Homo sapiens: one gene and its partners. The protein of the gene in region 3 interacts with the protein of the main gene of each other region in a biochemical or structural test. Each region holds a gene or a part of one and is shown on either strand. Other genes may lie near its edges. The genes, in order: GOPC, DLG2, HDAC7, PDZRN4, PARD3, MAGI1 and DLG1.

The links.
Region 1: the proteins of HDAC7 (region 3) and GOPC interact in a test that uses a peptide from one of them, tested with the Homo sapiens proteins (one large-scale study listed by IntAct).
Region 2: the proteins of HDAC7 (region 3) and DLG2 interact in a test that uses a peptide from one of them, tested with the Homo sapiens proteins (one large-scale study listed by IntAct).
Region 4: the proteins of HDAC7 (region 3) and PDZRN4 interact in a test that uses a peptide from one of them, tested with the Homo sapiens proteins (one large-scale study listed by IntAct).
Region 5: the proteins of HDAC7 (region 3) and PARD3 interact in a test that uses a peptide from one of them, tested with the Homo sapiens proteins (one large-scale study listed by IntAct).
Region 6: the proteins of HDAC7 (region 3) and MAGI1 interact in a test that uses a peptide from one of them, tested with the Homo sapiens proteins (one large-scale study listed by IntAct).
Region 7: the proteins of HDAC7 (region 3) and DLG1 interact in a test that uses a peptide from one of them, tested with the Homo sapiens proteins (one large-scale study listed by IntAct).

What each region holds. Positions count from the first base shown.
Region 1 is NC_000006.12:117,592,512-117,596,011, forward strand, and holds part of GOPC (Golgi-associated PDZ and coiled-coil motif-containing protein), read right to left. Parts: intron 1-3,500.
Region 2 is NC_000011.10:85,617,345-85,620,844, forward strand, and holds part of DLG2 (disks large homolog 2), read right to left. Parts: intron 1-3,500. UniProt on the Homo sapiens protein: Required for perception of chronic pain through NMDA receptor signaling. Regulates surface expression of NMDA receptors in dorsal horn neurons of the spinal cord.
Region 3 is NC_000012.12:47,792,404-47,795,903, forward strand, and holds part of HDAC7 (histone deacetylase 7), read right to left. Parts: intron 3,365-3,500; coding exon 3,184-3,364; intron 2,978-3,183; coding exon 2,781-2,977; intron 2,531-2,780; coding exon 2,357-2,530; intron 1,186-2,356; coding exon 966-1,185; intron 267-965; coding exon of another isoform or gene 256-266; exon of another isoform or gene 1-255. UniProt on the Homo sapiens protein: Responsible for the deacetylation of lysine residues on the N-terminal part of the core histones (H2A, H2B, H3 and H4).
Region 4 is NC_000012.12:41,194,820-41,198,319, reverse strand, and holds part of PDZRN4 (PDZ domain-containing RING finger protein 4), read right to left. Parts: intron 1-3,500.
Region 5 is NC_000010.11:34,805,297-34,808,796, forward strand, and holds part of PARD3 (partitioning defective 3 homolog), read right to left. Parts: intron 1-3,500. UniProt on the Homo sapiens protein: Adapter protein involved in asymmetrical cell division and cell polarization processes. Seems to play a central role in the formation of epithelial tight junctions. Targets the phosphatase PTEN to cell junctions.
Region 6 is NC_000003.12:65,426,919-65,430,418, forward strand, and holds part of MAGI1 (membrane-associated guanylate kinase, WW and PDZ domain-containing protein 1), read right to left. Parts: intron 3,223-3,500; coding exon 2,602-3,222; intron 1-2,601. UniProt on the Homo sapiens protein: Plays a role in coupling actin fibers to cell junctions in endothelial cells, via its interaction with AMOTL2 and CDH5. May regulate acid-induced ASIC3 currents by modulating its expression at the cell surface.
Region 7 is NC_000003.12:197,288,613-197,292,112, reverse strand, and holds part of DLG1 (disks large homolog 1), read left to right. Parts: intron 1-3,500. UniProt on the Homo sapiens protein: Essential multidomain scaffolding protein required for normal development. Recruits channels, receptors and signaling molecules to discrete plasma membrane domains in polarized cells.

The DNA of each region.
Region 1 (3,500 bases), on a different chromosome or scaffold from region 3:
CTGTTGGCAATCACTGGCATCCCTTGGCTTGTAGATACATCACTCCAATCTCTGCTTCTATCATCACATAGCCTTCTTCTCTGTGTCTGTGTGTGGCCTTTTCTGTCTCCTATCAGCACACTTTCATTGGATTTAGGGCCCCCTCTAATCCACTATAATCTTACCTCCATCTTTACATAATTACACCTGCAAAGACCCTCTTTCTAAATAAGGTCACATTCTGAGGTTTTGGGGGTGGATATGAATTTTGGAGGGATACGATTCAACCCACTACAGATACTGATCAATCATTTCCCAAACAGAAATGCAGTGTTATCCTTAACCCTTTCTCTTATCTCCTGCATCTACATAATTATCAAATCCTGTCAATTCTCCTTCCTTAGTCTTCAATTTATCTCCTTTTCATCAGCCCCATTACCACTTTCACTTCAATAACACACTTGTCTGTATAACAAACTCCTTTGCTATAACATTGAATAAACCTAGTTATTACTCTCATTACTGTGCCTGTACCTAAACAGATATGCATTGCTAGAGAAAATCACACAACAGTACAGACCGGTTGCACCATAATTTATGATAACTAACCCCAAGCCATTCCTCAACAATGCCTGGCAGTCCTGTTTCTCTGGCCAATTGGCTCTCCCACTCTTCCATTACTATCTCAAACCTCTTCTACTAGCCTCATGCTCTTACTCTCACCTACTTTTAGCAACTGACGTGGGCTCCTATTTTACAGAAAAAAAAAAGCCATCAGACAGAAACTTCCACAACCTCCTACTGTCTGCTCCCATTCTCTCCCTCTTCTAAGTAGCTGTTATTACAAAATCTTACTAATATTAACTACCCCACTCTTTTTCTATATTTGGCTTTTCTCTCAAGTAGATGCTTCTCACAGACTTATGTTTTATTTGTTTTTATTTAAAAACAAAATGAAAACAAAACCTCCCTTGTACCCTACAATCTCACTTCTTGCTATCTATTCAGCCACACTCACTCTTTCTGTCTGCTTCTCTCTCCACCTCCTCCATCCCCCATCAGACATAATGTGTTTGTGCAGAGACTGATTTCTCTAGCTCCGTAGCCTCAGGCCTCTTACTTAATCCCTGTAAAGTTGGAGTAACTATACTAATAAACCTGTTTCCAGGACTGTTGTGAGAATTGGATGAATCAGTCTATGTAAAAGACTCAGAAGAGAGGTTGGCCCATGGTAACTGATCAATAAAGTTGGCAATATTGTTATTGCTAATAATATAACACATTCATCTATCTATTCAGGCAACCAGCTGCACAAGATTGTCACTTGGATTTATCCTGAACTCCCTCATCCCTCTGTTCCAATCCATCTCTAGGTTTTTTTTATTTTTACCTCTCCAGTTTCTCTTGTTCTGAATACCTTCTCCTACCTCTATTATCTTACTCCACACTATCATAATCTCACATAAACAGAAACCTTCTAAACAATTTTCTGCATTCATTCATGTCATTCTCTGCAATTTTCTCCATACCATAGTCAGAGTGAACTATTCTAACTTCATATCTGAGGCTACGAACTGGTTTAAAAGACTTCCCACGATTATGATAAAGCCCCAAATATTTTTGCATGGCCATAAAGTCATGTAGAAATAGTCCCTCTCTGTCTGTTCAAACTTATCTTGTGCCTTGCTTCTTTTGCCCTCTTCTCTTGTTACACATACCAACTATCTCTCGAATCTTCAAATGCACTATGCGCTTGCCCACCACAGGTGCTTTTCACTTCCCATTCCCTCTACGGCAATGTTGAATGGCATTCCTATTTCTCTTAGCTTAATTCATTCCTATTTACACATAATTCCTTTATGTCTTAGCTCAATAACTTCCTCAGGGAAGCCTTCTCTGACATCCCAAAATAGGGTCTCATTTACTCTTATGTACCTTTCATAGTATTCATCAAAGTTGCAATTTCTCATTTACATGATTATTCTCCCAACAAATTCCTCCAATATAATCCAAACTCCATAAAAGCCATGACTACATCCCTTTTTTGCTCTCCATTGTATCCTAAGTGCCCAATACAGCATCTGGCACATAATTCGTGTTCATAAGTGCGTACTGGATCAATATTAAACTTAAGCTTCAATGTTGCAAAACAGCCTATTTAAAAACAGGACAGATTTAAAGCAGCAAAGGGACAAGCATATCACCAGTTCATTATCAATGTGGCTCTAGATCAAAGTTAAAAGTTTCTCTACTGTTGGCTATGAATAATAAATCACTTCAAAGAGATACTAACAGAGCAATTGCTGAGGGAAAGGAGGATGTGAAAGAAGGTGTATTGTTGTGCTGTTACTTTAAAAAAGGAGTAACAGGCAGAACACTCTTTCAAGGCAGAGGTGAATTTTTTAAAGTATTGGTTCACAATCTTTATTCTATTCCAACACACCTACTACTGCTAGTATTACTATTCCTACTGTAAACCTAAAAGGAAAAGGCTGAGGCACAAAATATACTTTAGTTTACCTGAGCCAAAATGAGGACAGCTACTCAACACATATTTCCCAGATGCCTGGGGAGTGCTCTGGCACCTGAGTTACAAGCAGATTTTAAAGGGAAAAAGGAACAAGGCAGATACAAAGTTGCTTGATAAGAATTCTCATTGGTTTACAATCACTGATTAGTGACTGGCTATTCATTGTTGCACTATAAGGTATGACTTATGGTGTCCAGCATATGGTATTTTATGGCTACTTGGCGTCAGTTAGTCTAAATCCTACATAGAAGGTGGCTTCCAGAGATAACTGCTTAGGTCAAAAGGGAGTGCCATAACTGCGGTTTCATTCCAATGCCTCTCTAGGCCTCACAATGGAAAGGAACTCAGTTGTGTTTTGTTTTGTTTGTTTGGGTTTTGTTTTGTTTTTTCAATAGGTTTCTGGGGAACAGGTGGGGTTTGGTTATGTGAATAAGTTATTTAGTGGTGATTTCTGAGATTCTGGTGCACCCATCACCTGAGCAGTGTACACTGTATCCAATGTGTCATCTTTTATCCCTCATCCCCTTCCCACCCTTTACTCCAGATCCCCAAAGTCCATTGTATCATTCATATGCCTTTGCATCCTCCTAGCTTAGCTCCCATGTATGAGTGAGAACATACATTTTGTTTTCCACTCCTGAGTTACTTCATTTAGATAATGGTCTCCAATCAATTCCACCCAGGTTGCTGCAAGTGCCACTATTTCATTCCTTTTTATGGCTGAGTAATATTCCAGGTGTCTGTATATATACACACCACATTTTTTTAATCCACTTATTGATTGATGGGTATTTGGGCTGGTTCCATATTTTTGCAATTATGAGTTGTGCTAGTATAAACATGTTTGCAAGTATCTTTTTCATATAATGACTTCTTTTCCTCTGGGTAAATACCCAGGAGTGGGGTTGCTGGATCAAATGGTAGATCTACTTTTAGTTCTTTGAGGAATCTCCACACTGTTTTTCATAGTGGTTGGTGGTTTACATTCCCA
Region 2 (3,500 bases), on a different chromosome or scaffold from region 3:
ACTTCTATTCATCTTCTGTATCTCATCTTAAATATTACATCTTCCCTAGTGGGATTGAGTGTTCCTTGTCTGTTTTCTTGACAAAGAGCGTTAACCTCACCACACAGCATTGAAATTGCCTGTTTTTGCATCTGTCTTCCTAATATATTTTAAGATTCATACAGGCAGAGATTGAATATCATTTGCTACTTCAAACATGCATCTGGCACTATGCCTGGCACATAGCAGGCACTCATAATACACCTTTGTTGAATGGATAAATGATTGAATAAATAAATGAAAGTAGAGTCATTGCCTTAAATATATACACCAGTTTACACCATATATACACCAGTTTACCTTTTAAAAGAATTTTAGCTTGTTTATTACCTATGAGAGATGTTTAAATAGAACAGAACTTAATAGGTTTATTCCAAGTATTACCATGCTTTTAATGATAAAGATGTCACAGTCCTTCAAAATGATAAGCCCCTGATAGAAGCTTCAAAATTGTATCCTAAATTAGGGCCTCAGTGGCTAGCAAAATGGTGTTACCAGAAGAAATGGGTTACAAAAATCTTACCCATAATCTTTGAAAGTTTAAATTTAATAATTCATTTTCACAGGATTTTCTACTTTATTATACTATACCATTCCTCTTGATCTTAAATCCTAAAATAAAGGAGGTCAGGAGAATCGTTTCATAATGAAGGTGATTTGGCCATAATTCTTGAAATAGCTTTGAAAACTTACTAAAAATTGAACCCATGCGGAAAGCTTATTAGTTGGAATTCAGAATGACTAACTGGACAGAAGAGACTGGATAAAACTCATGATCCTTTGCTGACAAAGCAACCTACATTGAGGATATAGAAATACTTGTGTCTTGACTGCCATAAATTCCTGGGCAAGAATTGTAGCTGGAGAACACATTCCCTTATCCCAATCAAAAAAAAAATCTCTCCCTTATACTAAAAAATATTTTGTAATCACTGACATGGTAACATAGTATTAAGAAATAAGCATATAAGGAGAATATATATTTAAGAAAGTATAGTATTCGTATAGTTCAGTAAATGTATTTTACAGAACAGTGAGAAATTTACTTATTGACAAAGGCATGAATGAACAGAATGCCTTAATCCAACATTTTAAAAACCCAATGTTTATCCCAGGCAAATTAACACAGAAACAGAAAACAAAATACCGCATGTTCTTACAAGTGGGAACTAAGAATTGGGTATACATGGACATAAAGACAGGAACAATAGACACTACGCAAGGGACTAGTGGGGCAAGGGCTAAAAAACCACCTATTGAGTACTATGCTCAATACCTAGGTGACAGAATCATTCATATCCAAAACCTCAGCATCACACAATATACTCATGTAACAAATCAGCACATGTACTCACTGAATCTAAGAAAAAGTTGAAGTTTTTTAAAAATAAATAAGTAAAATCCAATGTTTTGTGCATACCTCACTGACTAGATTCTTCTACCCACAAAAGTAAACAATAATAGGCCTAAGGGAGAAATCAAATATTCTATCATAAATAAAAACACTTGAGCAGATTTCCAAAAACCCAGAAGTTCACACATTTTCTAGTATCAAGTCATTAGCATATGCTTTGTACTCTCCCAATAGATATGTAAAATAAAATCAATTAACAGATCATTTTATCTCTACGTCTTCCTCACTAAGTTGCTTCATAGCAAACTCCTAATCAGTAGTTAAACACAAAAAGTATTCTTCTATTTCTCATTCTGGAATTCATTCTATTTATGCCTCCTGGATTAATTAATATTTTACAATATCAAGAGTCTATAGCTTATCCAAGGTCAAAATTGTCCCTACGGGGAATTTCTTTTAAAATAAAAAAGATATGGGATACCCAGGCTGGAGTTCAGTGGCACAATCACAGCTCACTGCAGTCTCAAACTCCTGGGCTCAGGCAATCCTCCAGTCTCAGCCTCCCAAGTAACTGGGACTATAGGCACATGCCAACAAGCCCAGCTAATTTTTTTAATTGGGGAATTTTAAATTAAAAAAAAAAACTTTAGTAAATTGTCTATTTTACTTTGACTTACAGAAAATGCAAAAGTTTGAAAACTGTGTTTTCCCATCTTTCTCTAGGATGATTCAGTGCTTAATTCTTTTGAGTTTTATGGCTGTGAAGAGATTAAAAAAAAAACTTGAAGTTTTGGAAAACAGAAAAAACATGTGCAGCCATATGCAGTGGCTCATGCCTGTAATCCCAGCACTTTCAGAGGTGGAGGCAGATGAATCACCTGAGGTCAGGAGTTTGAGGTCAGCCTGCCCAACATGGTGAAATCCCCTCTCTTCCAAAAATGAAAAAATTAGCCAGGCACAGTGGCAGGCGCCTGTAATCCCAGCTACTCGGCAGGCTGAGCCAGGAGAATCGCCTGAACCCAGGAGGTGGAGGTTGCAGTGAACCGAGATTGCGCAACTGCACTCCAGCCTGGGCAACAGAGCAAAACTCCGTCTCAAAAAAAAAAAGACAAGCTCTCCATATATTACTGGTATGGCAAACATGAAAATTCAAATACAAATTTGGTAAAATGCTTGCAAAAGGAATAAAATAACCACACAAGGCCACTCAATGAAGTCAGGTACAGGCATAGCTCATTTTATTGCACTTTGCTTTACTGCACTTTGCAGACAACACGTTTTTCACAAATTAAGTTTGTGACAACCCTGTGTCAAACAAGTCTATCACTGGCAATTTTCCACAGGATATATTCACTTCATGTCTCTGCGTCACATTTTGGTAATTCTCACAATATTTCAAACTTTTTCATTAGTCTTTTATTTGTTACAGTGATCTGTAATCAGTGATCTTTGATGTTCATTGTAATTGTTTTGGGGCGCCACAAATCATACCCACATAAGACAGCAAACTTAATCTGTAAATGTTGTGTGTTATCTGACTCCTCTACCAACTGGTCATTGCCCCATCTCTCTCCCTCTCCTCAGGTCCCCCTATTCCTGGAGACACAACAATATTAAAGTTAGGCCAATTAATAACTCTACCATGGCCTCTCAGTGTTCAAGTGAAAGGAAACGTTACACATTTCTCACACTCAAAGCTAGAAAATGATTAAGCTTAGTGAGGAAGTTATGTTGAAAGCTGAGATAAGCCAAAAGCTAGGCAGCCCTCTTGCACCAAATAGCCAAGTTGTGAATGCAAAGGAAAAACTCTTGAAGGAAATTAAAAGGGCCACTTCAGTGAACACACGAATAATAAGAGAGACACGCTTACTGTTGATATAGGGAAAGTTTTAGTGATCTGAACAGAAGATCAAACCAGCTGTAATTCCCCTCAAACCAAAGTCTAATCCAGAGCAAGGCCCTAACTCTCTTCAATTCTATATAGGCTGAGAGAGGTGAGGAAGCCACAGAAGAAAGCTGGAAGCCAGCAAAGGTTGGTTCATGAGGTGAAAGGAAAGAAGTCATCTTTACAACATAAAAGTGCAAGGTGAAGCAGCAAGTGCTGATG
Region 3 (3,500 bases):
GAGGCTACCAAGGGGCAGCAGGAGGGAAAAGAATTCCTAGGAAACCCCCAAACCGGGAGCTAAGAAGCCCACGATGACACTGGACCATGTGATAGACAAATCCAGCTTTGGAGAAGTGACTATTTCAGTCTGACCCGTGGGAAGTCTTCAGAGGAGGGTCCTGCTCATTGCGGGTGGGAGGGTCAATTTCTGTGCGTCTAGGACACCAACGACTCTCAAAATGCTCACACCATGTGACCCAGGAATGCTACTTCTTTAGAGTGAACCTTGGGAAATAATCCCAAGCATGAGGAAAGATTTATGCATAAGGAAATTCAAATAAGCTATAATCTAAATGTCTAACTGATAAGGGATCCCTCAGTAAAAATGAAATACATTAATGAAATACTATGAGACTCTCAGTTTTAAAGACTAATTATGCCAAGAAGGATTCATAATATGTTAACTAAGTAAAGCAGGATACAAAACGTAGTTCATGTGTTCATGGCATCTGTACATGTACATATGGCCAGAACAAAGCCTGGACTGAAATACAGCAGAATTTCAGAGGGTTTACTTCTGGGTGGTGGGATACTGGTTGGTGATTTTTCTTTTCTTCTTAGGTTTTTCTGTACTCTTCAAAATGTCTAAAATACTTCTGAGCTCTTTTTACAAGCAGAGCAACAGTAATAAATATCATTTTTTAAAAGGGCTGAGTGCATTGGCAGGAGACTGGAATTCTTATCCTGGCTTGACTACCACTTGCTATTTGACCACAGGCTTGTCACCTTAGATTTCGTGAGCCTTGGTCCTCATCGGCCAAATGCAATAACCAGCTGTTCCATGTGCTCCATGGGTACTACGTGGGCCTAACAAGGCTAAGCACTCTGTGGCCTCTAAAAATGTCCCAAGTGACACCAAGACACCCACATGGACTCGTGCAGCCGAGCCCCTCCCTCCACCCGCCACCCTCCTCCCGGTCTCACCTGTGGTGAAGGGCAGGGTCCTGGCAGGGGTCTCTGAGCTGGAGAGGACTCGGGCCTGGCTGGCAGGCTCTGGGGCTGACAGTGAGGCAGGTGCGGCTGGGGAAGACTGAGCCCGGGACAGAGGCCGGTGCCCACCCTGGGCCAGAGGAAGCAGCACAGTGTCCCCGGTGCTGCCCCGGGGGAGCCGCCCAGCCAGTCGCTGCTGTTCCCAGAGCAACACCTAGGGGAAAGATGGGGCCTTGGTCTCCAGTGTTTCAGGGTCCTGCTCCCTCTACTTCTGCCTGAGGTCTTGGGAACTGCCAAGCAGGCCCCTTTCCTAGAGAGATTCCAGGATAAACCTAGACCTGCTGTCCAGTGGGGCTCTGGCCTTTGACTCTCTAAGCCCCCTGTCCCCTGCAGCCCCCTGACAGGTTTGCACCCCAGACTGACCACCCATTCCACCAGCTCCCCGGGCCCTTGGGGCTCCAAAGCCAGGAACCAGGGGAGGGGCGCTGGATCTTGTGCTGACCAGGATGTCCTCCTGTCCTGGACTATGTAACTGTTCAAGAACATGTGTGTGGCCTGTCATCATGTGTTATGGAGTAAATTATGTTCCCCACCCTCAAATTTATATGTTGAAGTCCCAACCCCCAGTACCTCTAAACATGACCTTATTCAGAGATAGGGTCTTTACAAACAGAAGTAATCAAATTAAAATGAGGTCGTTAGGGTGGGCCTTAACCCAGTATGACTATTGTCCTTATAGGAAGAGGAAATCTGAACAGGCATTCACAGAGGGAAACCACATGAAGCCACAGGAAGAAGATGACCATCCACAAGCCAAGGAGAGAGACCGGGAACAGCCCCTGCCCTCACACTCACAGCCCCCAGAAGGAACCAACTCCACCAACACCTCGATTTTGACTTCCAGCCTCCAGAACTGTGAGATGGTAAATGCCTGCTGTTTAAGGCGCCCAGCCTGTATCCCAACAGCTCCGGCAAGCTAATGCACTGGGTCTTGATTCCCACAGTGAGAGCATTCTGCTGGACACGCTGGAGCCTGGCTCCATCCCACCTCTGGCCCTAGCCACCTTTCTGGATAGAGGGGAGACATACCAGGGCAGGACTATGTGTGGCTCCAGGAAAGGACAGACTCCTTCCTGGAAAAGGGACATGCTTCACCTGAGACTGGCAAGCTGTTGTGTGTATGTGTGTGTATGGGTGTGTGAGTGTGCATGTGTGTGTGTGCCTACACCTTAGTGTGGATCCAGCACCCAGGATCTTATAGGGCAACCATGGGTCCTAGAGCTGCCTGTTGCACTGATGTCGTATCTCCCTCCCTTCCCCATCTTATGCCAGGCCCCAGAGTCTTCTGAGGACACTTTCTGAGGGGCAGGTGGGGACTGCCATACCTGAGGGTGCTGCTGGAGAGGAGCGGGGCCTCTGGCCTCAGGCTGCCCATGGCCCAGCTCCCTGTGCTCCAGGCCATCGTCCACCACCTGGCCCGGTCCCCCGCCATCTGTCTCCAGGTCTTCAGCCGAGGGTATCTGCCGCAGCCGGGGCTTCTCACTCGGCTTGGCTGACCTCTGGGGAGGGGAGAACCTGGCTGAGAAGCCATGGTGGAGCGAGGGGCATGGGGTGGGAGGTGGTGGGCTGGGCCAGGCAGCCAGTCATCTTGCTAGGACTCCAGCTGCCATGCAGCTCTGGGCCCCAAGAAGCCACATCCCCCTCTTTTGCCCTCCAGTTCCCTGCCCTTTCTAAGTACCCCTCTTCTTTTGGCCCCTAAGTCCCCAGTTAAACACTCCCTCAATACCTCCACTGCCCAATTCCTCTCACCTTGATCACCTGGACGTGAGTTTTGAGCTGCTCCAGGCGGGGCTGCATGGGGCCCGGCGGTGGGGGAGCGGTGGCACTGGGGGGCAGGGGCTCTGAGCGAGTCCGGCTCAGTGGCCAGTGGAGGCCTGACCCAGAGAGCCGCTCGGTGGTCATTAAGGACTGGGCAAAGTGGAAGGGCAAGGGCCCAAGCCCGGGCACTGGAAAGAATCGGGGGGTGGAATAAGGAGGGAACCACAGGGAGCAATGGAAGGAAGCGAGGGTATAGGGTGGGGGGCCAGGGTGCAGCAGGGCAATGCGCAGGACAGGGGGACAGAGATGGGGAGGAAGGATGGGTCCATCCCAAGCTTGGCTCTTAGCAGGGTGCAGGGACCCAGCCCCTTCCCTGAAGAAGCAGCAGACTCACCAGTCAGCAGCGGGGCATGAGAGCCTGAGGGGTCCAGGAGGAGAATGGGCTGCAGGCGAGAGGGCAAGGTGCCCCCAGCCTCGGGCTCCAAGCCATGGGGCAGGAAGAGGGGAGTGTGGGGGCTCCCCAGGATTGGCCCCCGAGGGCCCAGAGTCGGATGGGTCCTGCGGTCACTGTCAGCCTGGGGGAGAGGCGGGAGAAGTCACGGGGAAGAAGATTCCAGCAGAGAACAATGAAGATGATGGGGTGAGGCAGCAAGAAAAGGGAGTGAAAGAAGCTGGGGGGGCTTGGAGTGGGGGTGGGCACCCCAGCCACTC
Region 4 (3,500 bases), 6.6 Mb from region 3:
GAAGAAAGTGTAAACAAAGAGCCATGAATGATTATCCACCCTTTCCCACTCTGGAGTTATGGTTGCATTGCCTGCTATCAGTATCATAGAAATAAGAGAGGAGACTGGGCACTATGGCTCACGCCTGTAATCCCAGCATTTCAGGAGGTCAAGGTGGACAGGTCGCTTGAGCCCAGGAGTTCAAGACCAGCCTGGGCAGCATGGTGAAACCCCATCTCTACAGAAAATTTTTAAAAAATTAGCCAGGTGAGGTGGGGTGCACCTGTAGTCCCAGCTACTTGGGAGGCTTAGGCTGGAGGATACCTTGAGTCCCAGAGGTAGAGGCTGCAGTGAGCTGTGATCATGCCACTGCATTCCAGCCTAGGTGACAGAGCAAGATCCTGTCTCCAAAAAAAAAAACCCAGAAAAAACAAGGAAAAGAAGAAGAAGAAGAAAGAAAGAAAGAATAGAGGAATCGATGCTAAAAGCAACAGTGAACTTTGTTTCTCAACTCCCTCCCACATACCACTTAGGCATCCTAACATGATGATAACTACAGCAATGGTCATGCCTTCTTCCAGAATTGTGCCCAACCTTCGATAGGATCAGGGATTTTCTGTGATTCCTTTGATTCTTGAAAGAATGAAAAACAGCATGCTTTTATTCAGCTGTATACTGTGGTGAATTCTTGGTGTATGTGAATTTCTGTGATGTTTCAAAATGCCTTCAACAATATCTTCTGCCTTTTCAGTCTCCAGTGATATTTTGACACCTAGTGTAACTCAACTATCACAACTGATTTTTTAAAATTTACAAGCATAAATAGTTTAACAAATATGGATGTGGAAATAGCTAGAAACTGGTTAACATAGTTGCTTGTGGAGACTGACTCCAAAAATTAACTTGCCTTATATTATGTGAAAAATATGACATAGGTTTACCTAATGACAGTAATTTTTTATTCTTTTATTATTCTTGAATTTTATCAATAGAATGCAAATATTAAAAAATAATACGTGTTACTAGCCTTTGTTGAACTGTGGCAAAACTATTATAACTAATATATTATTTATTAGAGTTTATAAAATCTTTTTAACCACCAACAGAACAAAACCTTTAACATGTCTACTTCCTCTTCAAGTGAATAACTTTGGAAAATTTTATTATTTTTTAAAAACAATTCATAAACTTGTATGTGTGCATCAAGCAATTAGCTACAGAAAATATTTTTGAGCATATCTTGACTATATATAAACCATAGAATCTCTTATTGTTTTTATTTTTTATTTCAGTTATATATCAGTAAATTCAAAGCATTTAGTAATGTGTCAGATTGTGCATAAGTCATACGGATAATTTTATAATATATGAACTAGTTTGTACCCTTTACACTGTTAACAAACTTACTTGTTGCACCAGGTTTAAATCAGCATGACCATTTGAAATTCAAAAATTGAGCCATTAAATTTGTTCAATGAACAAATCTTTGATCACAAAACAGAAAATAAATTATTATCTTTACTTTAAAAATCTGTTTTAAAATATGCATCTGCACATTTTAAATTGATAGATTTCTTCTCAATTTCCAATTAGCTAAAAACTGCTTAAAGTTGATTGATATCATAATGACAGAGAAACTAAAATAATGATAAGCATCAAATATTTCTAACTTTAATGATTACATAGGGATCTTTTACAACACACACCATATGCACAAGAAAAAACACACTTCTTGTTTAACTAGATATTAAAGTCACACAAATATCTATTCACTCAAAAAGCCGATAGCATCACTGAACAACTAAGCAAGAGCAATTTATTTCTAATAATCTTCTTTCTAAAATATTTCATGCTATTTAACACACAACATTCTAGAAATATGCACCTCATCTAACCCATTTCTTAACTGCAAATGTGGTCACATTGATCCATTCTACAACTATAGCATATATACATAAAATCAATGTACCCTGGTATAAAAGACACATTGAAAAATCTATATCATTGAGACAAATTTCAAGCTCTAGTCATTAACTGCTAATATATGCAAATGAAAGTGAATAATAATACCGCAGCTAGTTAAATTTCATTTGAATTTCTGTGGTTGACCTCCTTACTTTTTATCTTACAGGGTTTAAATAAGGTTAATCTGACATATATTAGTAACAGTACTATGTAGGTGTCTAGATGCACTTGATTTTCAACCATAGTTTTATAAAATTACCTCTTTAAAAAAAACAGTAGGTTTGTAACCAAATTGTTGTATGACAATATAAAAAATTCTTTTTCTTTTCTAATGTAACATTAATGAAGCATACATAATATTGTCATCTAGCTAGAATAAGTTATTTTTTAAATTGCCAATACGTATTTCTGTTGTGTCTATGTGTTTGTGTGGGTGTAACAATATATGTATTCAGTTCCATCAGTTCTTCTAATAATATCAAATGTAGGAATTTATTTTCCATTGGTAACTGGACAACTTAATATGTTTTTGAGATAATGCAGAAAGTAATAGGGACAATCTTCTGTTTAAAGTATGTTGCCCTTTAGATCATACTGTGCACATTCTAACTTTAGAAGCTACAGCATGTGAATGTTTCCACTAGACAAATTGTCAAGATGAACTGGATAGCAACAGCAAAAGTAGGTCTGCACTTTCTCGGCAACAAAACTGGAAGAATAAAAATCTTGATACAAGAGACCTCTTTAGATATAAATCAAAGTTTTTTTTTTGGCAAAAGATAACTCTTCTTTTTTTTCTAAATTTTGTAGTCGGCTAATTTATAAATGTTGTGTTCTTTTTTCCCAAAACAGCAAACTATTGGGTCTTCTATATTCTTCACTCTTACTCTATGTCGATTCATTAAAAATTCAACTTTGTTTAGTGCACAGAGGATGAATGAAAAGCTAAAACTTTATTTAAAATTTAATATAGAAAATCTGCCTCCATTCTGATAGTTTATATAAGTATTCAGAGAGATAGCACTAGTGATTATATAGCCTAGAGTGAACAGAATTTTTAAAAACAATAGTGGAGTCAAGTAAACCTTCCAAATTCCTATTTATAGCTTCACTAATCCATTGGAAATAAACTCACTGATAAAAGTAACTTAACCATTTTTGGCAACAAAAAGTAATATTATCTTAACCAGTTAATAAAATGTCAAAAGGACAGAGATGGCAGATGGCAGGGACATAAAATTTCATTAACATAACCCAATTTTACTAGCATATAGGTGCTCACTTTATCACCCCCGAATACAACAATACAGTTAAAACATACAAAGAGTTCTCACCAGGTTTTCACAACAAAGAGAAAAAAAGGTATTTCTCTTTTTCTTTCATATAAAAGATAATGACAGGAACAAGGTAGCCATATTACACCAAGAAATATTAAAAGTATTGTATAATTTATTCCAAACTCTACATATAAAATATTAATTACAAATTTAAAATATAATCATAGTTCCTCATCAGAAATGTTCCTCAACAGAGATTTATCATCCTTTTTTGAAATG
Region 5 (3,500 bases), on a different chromosome or scaffold from region 3:
CAGTGAGCCGAGACTCTGCCACTGCACTGCAGCCTGGGCAACAAAGTGAGACTCCGTCTCAAATACAAGAAGGGAAAAACCAGACACTAGAAAAATATACATCTGAGTTCCAAAACCTTAAATCTTACAGTGTCTGAATAGTTAAAAACACCAAGATTGGGAGAATGTTGACTTGACTATCATCTCTAAAATGACTTAAATTTATACCACCATAAAAGATCACCCCAGAAATACACACGTATGTGCATATATATATATATATATATATATACACCGTACAGTTCGTATCATGCAATATCATACATCTGTAATTCACAAAGGGAATTGTCTTAGTCACTTCTGAGCATGATGTGATTTACATTAAAAGATACTTACCTTGAGACAATAAGAAATTCTGGGGCCGGGCGCGGTGGCTCACGCCTGTAATCCCAGCACTTTGGGAGGCTGAGACAGGCGGATCACGAGGTCAGGAGATCGAGACCATCCTGGCTAACACGGTGAAACCCCACCTCTACTAAAAATACAAAAAAATTAGCCAGGCGTGGTGGTGGGCACCTGTAGTCCCAGCTACTCGGGAGGCTGAGGCAGGAGAATGGCGTGAACCTAGGAGGTGGAGCTTGCAGTGAGCCGAAATCACGTCACTGCACTCCAGCCTGGGCGACAGAGCGAGACTCCGTCTCAAAAAGACAAAAAAAAAGGAAGAAGGAAGGAAATTCTGAAGGACACCCTAGACAAATTTTTTTTTTCTGTTAGAGACAGAGTCTCGCTGTGTCACCCAAGCTGGAGTGCAGTGACACCATCATAGTTCACTGCAATCTCAAACTCCTGAGCTCAAGCAATCCTCCCACGTCAGCCTCCTGAGCAGCTGGGACTAAAGATGCACACAACCATGTCTGGCTAATTTTTTTTTTTTTTTTTTGAGATGAATCTCCCCATCGCCCAGGCTGGAGTGCAGTGTCGCTATCTTGGCTCACTGCAACCTCTGCCTCCCAGGATTCAAGTGATTCTCTTGCCTCAGCCTCCCAAGTAGCTGTGATTATAGGTGTGCACCACCATGCCCAGCTATTTTTTGTACTTTAAGTAGAGATGGGGTTTCACTACTTTGGCCAGGCTCGAACTCCTGACCTCGTGATCCACCCACCTCGGCCTCCCAAAGTACTGGGATTACAGGCGTGAGCCACCACACCCGGCCTATGCCTGGCTAATTTTTTTAAAAAGAGACGGGGTCTCACTATGTTGCCCAGGCTGGGTCTTGAACTCCTGGCCTCAAGCAATCCTCCCACCTCAGCTTCCCAAAGCTCTGGGATTACAGGCGTGAGCCTTCTCACCCAGCCAACCCTAAGCAAAATTTACCCTAACTCTGAATAGCATCCATTTGACCTGGAGAGCAAGCCCCGTCATTTCAAAGTTGGGGGGGTCGGGGTGAGGCAAAATATTCTCACAGCATGGAGGGAAGCAGTAAGAGGTCCTGGACCCTGTATAACCATCTGAAAAGCCACTGCACATCACTTATGGTCCCATGAGCACCAAAACAAACCATGCAGAGCAGGAGTCCCTGCACAGCTCAGGGAACTGGCAGTGGGAGTCCAGCCCAGCACCTCTGAATATGAGAACATGGGGAAACAGAGGCTCACAGAGCTTGTAAGATTTGCCAAAGCTCAAAATTTCTGGGAGCCAAAGCCAAATGCTGGAAAGGCTGGTCCATTACGTGCATCCTTGGGGCATTCTCAACCTCCACTGCACAAAGGTAGCTGGCGAGCTGGGTAGAAGGAGTCTCTGGCTAAAGAACAATTGGTGAAGCCCTTAGAGGGGGTAGGGGGTAGCACACAGAGACCAGGGGACCTGGAGGCTCAGCAGCCAGGAGCTTACCAGACACTAAACAGGACACATTGGACAGGCCTGAGAAAGCAGGGATTCCACACTATATGGAAAACTCCTAAAGACAGCCAGTTTTCATTTGAAGTGTTTTGAGCATCTCTGATACACATATATATGTCATTTTATGAAATGCTCAGAACTACAAAATACCTAAAAATGGAGCGTTGTTCATAGTGGCTTATGCAGTCTATTTTTCTAACATCTTTATTGACATATAATCACATAACCATAAACTCCATCCATTGAAAGTATACACTTGAATAGAACTGTGCAACCATCACCATGATCTTAGAATATTTTCATCATCCCAAAAGGAAACCTCATACCCATTCACAGTCTCCATGACTCCAAACTCCCAGTCCTAGCGGAACACCACTCTACTGTCTCTATAGAGCTACCCACTCTGGTCATGTTATAGGAACAGAATTATACAATATGTGGGCTTGCTGCTATGAACACTGATGTACAGGTTTTGTGTACACATTTTCATTTCTCTTGTGTGCTTGTGTGTGTGTGTATATATATAAAGAGTATATATAAAATATATACAGAATAGAGTACAGAGACTATATACAAAATATACTCTGTTTAGGTGAAAAAAATAAATAATTGATATTTAAAGTCACTTGGATGTGGAGCTTGAAATTTTACTTGCAAGGACCAATATGAGTTGATGGAGAAAAAAGGAATACACAAAAGTAATATTTAAATGGCAAAAACCACGTAAAGATAGCAGGCCAGATGCAAGAAGGCACAGACCTATACACGAAAGTTATTTTAACTTTATTTACTAAAATGTTTACTTATTTACTAAATAAGTTAAAACAAAGTTATTTTTACTTATTTGCTAAAATTTAGGCCAGGCATGGTGGCTCGTGCCTGTAATCCCAGCACTCTGGAGGACCAAGGCAGGTGGATTGCTTGAGCTCAGGTGTTTGAGATCAGCCTAGCCAACATGGCGAGATGCCGTCTCTACAAAAACTACAAAAATTAGCCAGGTGTGGCGGCACACAACTGTAGTCCCAGCTACTTGGGGGACTGAGGCAGGAGGATCGCTTGAGCCTGGGAGGTTGAGGCTGCAGTGAGCAGAGATCACGCCACTTCACTCCAGCCTGGGTGACAAAGACCCTGTCTCAAAAAAAACAAAAGAAAGAAAGAAAAAACTTGTAAATAATGACTAAAAGACAAAAAAAAATCAGTCATCTTTCTACTTTATTCACTGAACTCGGCATTTATTTTGATAAAGATTTGCTTTTGTACAGAAAAGGTACCCAAAACAGGTAAAACTGTATACATTTACTGATGTCCAGCTCTACTGCCATTGACCTTGGTCCCAGCCAGGAATGTTGAGCGAGTGGCCAAGCAGGATGAAAGCATGCTGTGTGGGCTTAGCATGCCATCTCCCCCGATGGAAAATTACCTATAGAAAGCACCTTCTGGCCCAATCTTACATGTTTATTTCCATCCTTGATAAAAAATACCGAGGGCTCTAATCATCTATGGGGAGCTCAACATCACCAACTTGCACCCAACTCTGTGGGGAGGTAGAACCTCCCAGGACAGACGGAGGATCCGTCTGTGGGTTTGCATCCAAGTGGGACTTTAAATATTCCCTCCACAAC
Region 6 (3,500 bases), on a different chromosome or scaffold from region 3:
CAATATATTCCGGATTTTTCATATAAATGTTATAAAATGTAACACCATTAATGAGAAGATGGCATTGGGAATTAAGAAGAGAGAATGCAAACATATTTAAAATCAAGGAGTATAGTCAGGTGTGGTGGCTCATGCCTGTAATCCTAGCACTTCGGGAGGCCGAGGCAGGTGGATCCCTTGAGCGCGGGAGTTCGAGACCAGCATGGGTAACATGGAGAAATCATTTCTACTGAAAATACAAAAATCAGCCGGGAGTGGTGGCATGCACCTATAGTCTCAGCTACTTGGGGGGCTAAGGCAGGAAGATCGCTTGAAACTAGGAGGTTGAGGCTGCAGTGAGCTGAGATGGCACCACTGCACTCCAGCCTGGGTGACAAAGTGAGACCCTGTCTCAAAAATAAAAATAAAAAATAAAATCAAGGAGTACGTTTCTATAATCAGTTGTTTGCTGGCTTAGGCGAATTCATTACAATATGGTTCTAATACATGTGTAAGTTAGTTGGCTATAATGAAACTTTATGTTTGGTCTCCTTAGAAGTGAATCTAATGGGATAATAAACCACATCAATAACAGAAATGAGAAAGAGGATAGATGAGTTAGGAGAACAAGGTGGTTTGTGTCTGTCAAATGAGCAGTGGCTGAATCAGAGGTGCACCTGATGTACCAAGAATTATTTGAAAGTTTCCAGGCTGTCAGCCTCAGTATTAAGCAACTATACAAAAATCAGTGTTATTCAGTTAAGTAGGGCAGAACATTGGACTGGAAACCACAGAGCCAGGGTGAACAGCTCAGAACTACTGTGGGGTGGCACCTTCCTACCTCACAGGGAAGTGACAAATATCAGTGGAGAGGCACGTGCAGGTATGAAAGTGCTTTGTGTATCACTGATTCTTCTATAAGTGCCAGGTTTCATCATCACCATCATCATTATTGTCATAATCGTTCTTATACCCAAGTCATTTCCTACTACATACATCTTGGCTACTGTTTAAAACCAGTTCTCTGAGCAGTCAAGTGATCTAGGTACAAGAAGAGACTTGAAAATTAGTTGGTGGAAATGACATTTTAAAAAAAATAAAATTTGCACAATGCCTTTTATAACTGCCTAAGCCAGGCTCATTGAGCATTTCAATTCACATAGACAGCTACTCTGTATTTTGGGTTTCCTTCAAATGACCCCAGCCATTCTGATCGCAGAACACACAGGTTCATGAAAACATGAGAATCTGGCTGCTGTGACACAAATGAGCTCTCCTGTTGCAACAAACCAAAAGGAAGTCAAAGTCTGGTTCTTGATCTCTTTTCAAAAGGCCTGAATATGTTGTTCATGAAACAAATCATGGTAGCAAGGATCAGGGAAACAGCCATTCTCAGGCCCACTGTGTAAAACTATCAGTCACGACTAATCACATATAAGTATATATTCCAGGAGCAAGACACTTCAATATGGTGGAAAGTATTGCTCAGTGTGACGTCCTGTGTTTTCTGGTGAGGCAGAGGGTGGGATACGGACTCAAGGAGAAAGGAGGAAGCTTAATGCCTCGAGATTTAGAATAACCCAGATCTCTGAGATCCTAAACTACTAAACGCGAGCATGTGGAGGGAAGTGTTTAATATGATTAGCAGACCTCTTGTTTCTGCCAAATAGAAATAATCACATACCTATTCACTTAATACCTATTCATTCATAAATACCTAAAAGGAGTCAGGTGTTGTGTTAAATGCTGGGGATAACAGCTGTCCACATGCACACATGGGCCCTGGCTTTATGGAGCTTTATATTCTAATGAAAGACAAATAATGAAAAATAAATAAAAGCATGAAATAACGTCTTGTGCTAAAAAGGTGATGATGATCAAGGTTATGAAAAACTGTGATAAAGATTATATGGAAGTGTTGGGAGCTACTTTAGATAAAGTGATGGGAGAAGCCCTCTCTCATAAGGAGACCTGAATGGGACTGAGCCAGCTGGGAAGAGCTGGGAAAGGACCATTCCAGGCAGAACGGACAGTAAATACAAAGGGCCTGAGGCAAGAAAAGGCTTGAAGCATTAAAGGAGCTCCATAAAAGCAGCCAGTGTGGCTAAAGCACCATCAGATGGAGGAGAGGAACATGAGACAAGTTTGGAGTGACCATAGCCACATTTTGCAGGCTATGCAGGCCAAGTTCAGGAGATTTAAAGGATAAAGGTTATTATTTTTTATATATATATAAAAAAACTTTTTAGAGAATGGGGTCTCAATATGTTGCCCAGTCTGGACTCAAATGCCTGGGCTCAAGTGATCTTCCTGCCTCAGCCTCTCAAGCAGCCAGGACTACAGGTGGGTACCACCACACCCAACTTAGGTTTTTAAATCTTAACATTTTAAAAAGGCAAAATCTGATTTCTGTTTTAAGGTATCATTCTAACTGCATATGTCTGTCATAATGTATAAACCACAATTTTTATGCTAAAGAGGTTAGTATTTGGAGAAATCAGTAGGCATTTTGAAACATTTAAATAAATTTAAAAAGCCCCCAGTGGTCATCTGAAGATGAGTAAGTTAAGCAATGAATTTGGGATAAAAAAAAAATTCAAAGAACAAAACAACCCTACTTACCTCCTCGTTGCACCAACAATGTGACCTCACTTCCCTTAGGACACTCAACCAGCATATCCACCACTTGGTTGTGAGTTAGGGCCTGCACGTTCTTCTTATTAACTTCCACTATGAGATCCCCTTCTTTCAGGCCTCGGCACCTTGGGCTGTCAACAATCTGTTTCACTCTTTGGCCACCCCCACCAGGACTGTCTGCGATAGTAAAACCAAAGCCCATTGGCCCTTTGACAATATGAACAGTTATGAGTTCTGGCTGAGTGGCTATGGAGGAAGCCAAAGAAACAGTGTCATTAGGATAACCATGAGAACTATTTGAAGCCACGTCCGCTGGGCTGCTTGGCCTGGCATCCTTCATGCCATTGACTTTGCCTGTTTTACTACTGTGGCTAGCTGGTGAATCATAGGTCTCTTGCCCATTCACAATAATTGGTTCTTTATCCAAAATGGCTACCGAGGTCACTAAACTTGTATTGGGGTCATCTGGATCAAAAGGCAATGGATAACCTCGGCAGAGTTCAAGGTCCACGCTGGCACCAATGGGGATGGACTGGAAGATCTTCACAACTTGAGCATGTGTGTGTCCCAAAACACAGGTGTCATTCACACTTACAATCACATCCCCTGTAGAAGGCAAGAGTGTGGGGGTTAAGAAAACAGCACCCAGAAAATTGTCATCAGTATTATAATATCTCCCACTAACATAAAGCTGAACTGAAACTGCATGTGGGTGTGATACTATAGGGTATAAAGTGCTTCTATTACTGATTTTAACAGCTAATAAAGTGTTCTTTCAGCACCTAGTGTCTTCCCTGCTAATGAGAATGTAATAATCACTCACAGAACATTGGAGCTTTCTCCTAAAAAAAAATCTCACTGCAGAAATCCAAGTTTAGAATTCA
Region 7 (3,500 bases), on a different chromosome or scaffold from region 3:
AAATAGGATTGTGGGATCATACGGCAGTTACATTTTTAATTTTTTGAGGGCCCACCATAATGTTTTCCATAGTGATTGCAGCATTTTACAGTCTCACCAGCAGCACACAGGATTTCCAGTTTCTCCACATCCTTGCCGATACTTAATTTTTTTCCTTTCTTTTTTTGATAATAGCCATCCTAATAAGTGTGAGTATATGACTCCTCTTCAAGTGTATGTAAAACATAATAACCAACATTTATTGAGCACTTTCTATGTGCTAATACAAATATATCATTTAGTCATTGTAATCCTGTGAGGTGTACATTCACCTGTATGAGGTGTTTGTACTGTTTTATAGACTGGAAAACTGAAGCACTGAGAAATGACCAATCTTGCCCTTGGACCCTCAGATGCTAAATTGCGGAGCCAGAAATTGAACTCAACTAATCTGAATCCATAGATACTTCTCACCGTCAACCATTGGGATATTCTTTATCGTTGTTTTTCAGAACTGAGTATTTTAATCTGATAAAGAATACTAAATGACAAGCATGCTTAAGACAGATAGCAATCTTTAGGGTTAGTAATCTTTAAATGATTGTCACTTTGAAGGAAAATATTTATAATGGTGCATTATGTTTATGATGATGGAAATCACACATTTTGAAAACAGTGTTTAGTAATCAGGGTTTGAGATCTTCCAGCTATAGTGGTAAAATGTCAAAATTTCTTAAATTTCTTTTGCATTATATTAGTCCCACTGATGTTACATTTTAGTCTCTTGCTAACTGTGTGTGTGTGTGTGTGTGTGTGTGTGTGTGTGTGTGTGTAACTTTGTAGGCTAGATTTGAGTAAGGAAAACAGGATATGGATCACATCGTTGGCTGAAACTTCCTGAAATGGAGAATTTTAGTAACTTCTCACTTGATGGTTTTGATTCAATTAGATTGAGTTCTTTGCTCATAGTTTGCTTACTACTGCTCTGAAGCAGTGTTTTGATTATGTTGAATCTGGCTGAATTCTCTTTAGAACCTTGGAATCAGAGTTGTAAAGGCATCTAAATATTTCTTCTAAGCCATTTCCTCTCTGCAGGGTCATATTTTTCCTCAGTGCAGAATCCAGACTTGGACCAGATATTACCGTTAGTTGTCACGTCTCTTTACTTAGGGCACATTTCCACAGCTTTTCTTTGTCTTGTGTGAGACTGACTTTTTTTTTTTTTTTTTTTTTTTTACTATTTGGAGACAGGGTCTTGCTCTGCCACCCAGGCTGGAGTGCAGTGGTGGCTTACTGCAACCTCTGCTTCCCAGGCTCAAGCAATCCTCCTGCCTCAGGCTCCTGAGTAGCTGGGACTACAGGTGTGAGCCCCCACGCCTGGCTAACTTTTTCTAGAGACAGGTGTTGCCCAGGCTGGTCTCGAACTCCTGAGCAAAGTTCTGGGATTACAGGTGTGAGCCACTGCGCCCAGCTGAGATTGATGATTTTGAAAAACGCAGTTCCTTCCACTCTTACTTTTTTTTAATATAATTTTCTCATTTTGGGTTTGTCTGATGTTTCCTTGTGATTAGATTCAGGTTTTGTATTCCTGGCTTAGGATTCTGTACATCCAGAGGTACACAGAGTCATCTGCTCTTTGTTGATGATACTGATTTTGATTACCTAGTTGGGTGTTGTCTGAATTCTGTATCCTATAGTCATTGTTTTTTACCCCTTGTGGCTTATAGGCAATATGTGGGGGAGACACTTTAACACCATGTACATATCCTACTCCTTAGCAAAATTTCCACCCATATTTAGCATCCATTGATGATTCTTGAACCGGTTTATAATATGGTTGTTGAAAAGTAAGATTTCTAACAGTAACACTCCTAGGTTTACCAGTTAACACTTTGCATTTTATTCTAAACAAGAGCCTTCCTTCTTTTTTTCCCGTGTCTTTCATGAACTTGCAGATACCTGTTTTTTTTTCAATGACTTATCATTTATTACCATCCTTAATGACATTTGTGCTCTGAGTGATCCAGTGGGGGCCCTTTCAAGCTTGTGTCCTTATGAGATGCCCTCATCATTTTTTGGAGCACTTTCTTAATTTTTGGCATAACAAGATGTTCCAGGTTTATCTTGTACCTCTCCTGCCCCAGCCCTGGAATCAGCCATTTCTCTGAGAAGCTCTGGTTCCTTTTAGTACACACCTTGTTTTATGGAATATGCTTGTGAGTCATGTATGATTCTTAGTCTAATAGTATCTAAAGTATTCAAGTGATTTATTTTTGCCTACTAGCTTGACATCTTTCCTTTCTTTAGTGTGTGAAACAATAGTACAAACTTTTAAATTTTATAGGATATTCTTTCTTCTAGGGGTCAAAAATGACTTTTTAAATGAACATTGGTTTAGAAGAAAGAGTATTTGTGCTTGAGTAGATTTGACTATTGTGGTATTATCTTAGTATGTCATCTGCCCTTCACTGATGATGTTAATTTTGATTACTCAATTGGGTATTGTCTGAATAATCATACTTGCTTTTAGTAAATGAACTGATAGAATTTTTTTCCTCTGAAATGGTAGGGTTATATTTCAGTGTTCTTCAGCTTTCTAGTTGCCTTTCCTGTAACCCTCCAAAATAAATTTATTATAAAAATGATGCATGTTCTATATAAAACATTTGAGATCAGATTATTATATGTAAAATACCATAAGAAAATATTCACACCAGAGGTTACCTCCTACTTCATCCATGGGATGAATATCCTGGAATGTTATTTGTGTGTGTGTGTGTGTGTGTGTGTGTATGCGCGTGTATACACGCCACCCCCCACCTTCATTTTGCAAAACAAACTTCTAAGTAAAACAGTTATTTCCCTTGTGAGAATTGATACTTAAAATCAGCATGTAAGGTGAAAAACCTCATCTAGTTAAAATTATCCCTGAAAAGCCTTCAGAAATTTAACACTAGCTCTTGTTAATTACAGCACAATTGTTTTTTTTCCTCTAGTGGAAAGGAATGATTTCTTCACTTGAGCCCTAGACGAAGCAACTGGCTTGTTTGACTTCTTGTACTAAAAACACGTAATTATAGAATCACACTCAGCACAGTGAGATATAGCAAGAAGCTCACATTTTGAGAGGCACATGAAAACTCAGACTACCTAAAGGAAGAATCTTCTTCCTTCTCATTTTTTTATTTGTGACAGTCACTTATTGGGTAGACAGAGTTGCCCTTTTTTGCAGGGGAGATATACTGCAGTTGTATTTGTATAAGTGTGAATAGTATGATTTCTCTGTACTATACATATTGTTTTTATCTTCTAAAGTTTATCGACAAATGTCTTTCCATGTCAGTAGATTTCTACCATTTTATGTATGTATGTATGTATGTATGTATGTATTTTTTTTTTTTTTTTTTTTTTTTTGAGACAGTTTCACTCTTGTTGCCCAGGCTGGAGTGCAATGGCTTGATCTCAGCTCACCACAACCTCCGCCTCCTAGGTTCAAGCGATTCTCCTGCCTCAGCCTCCTG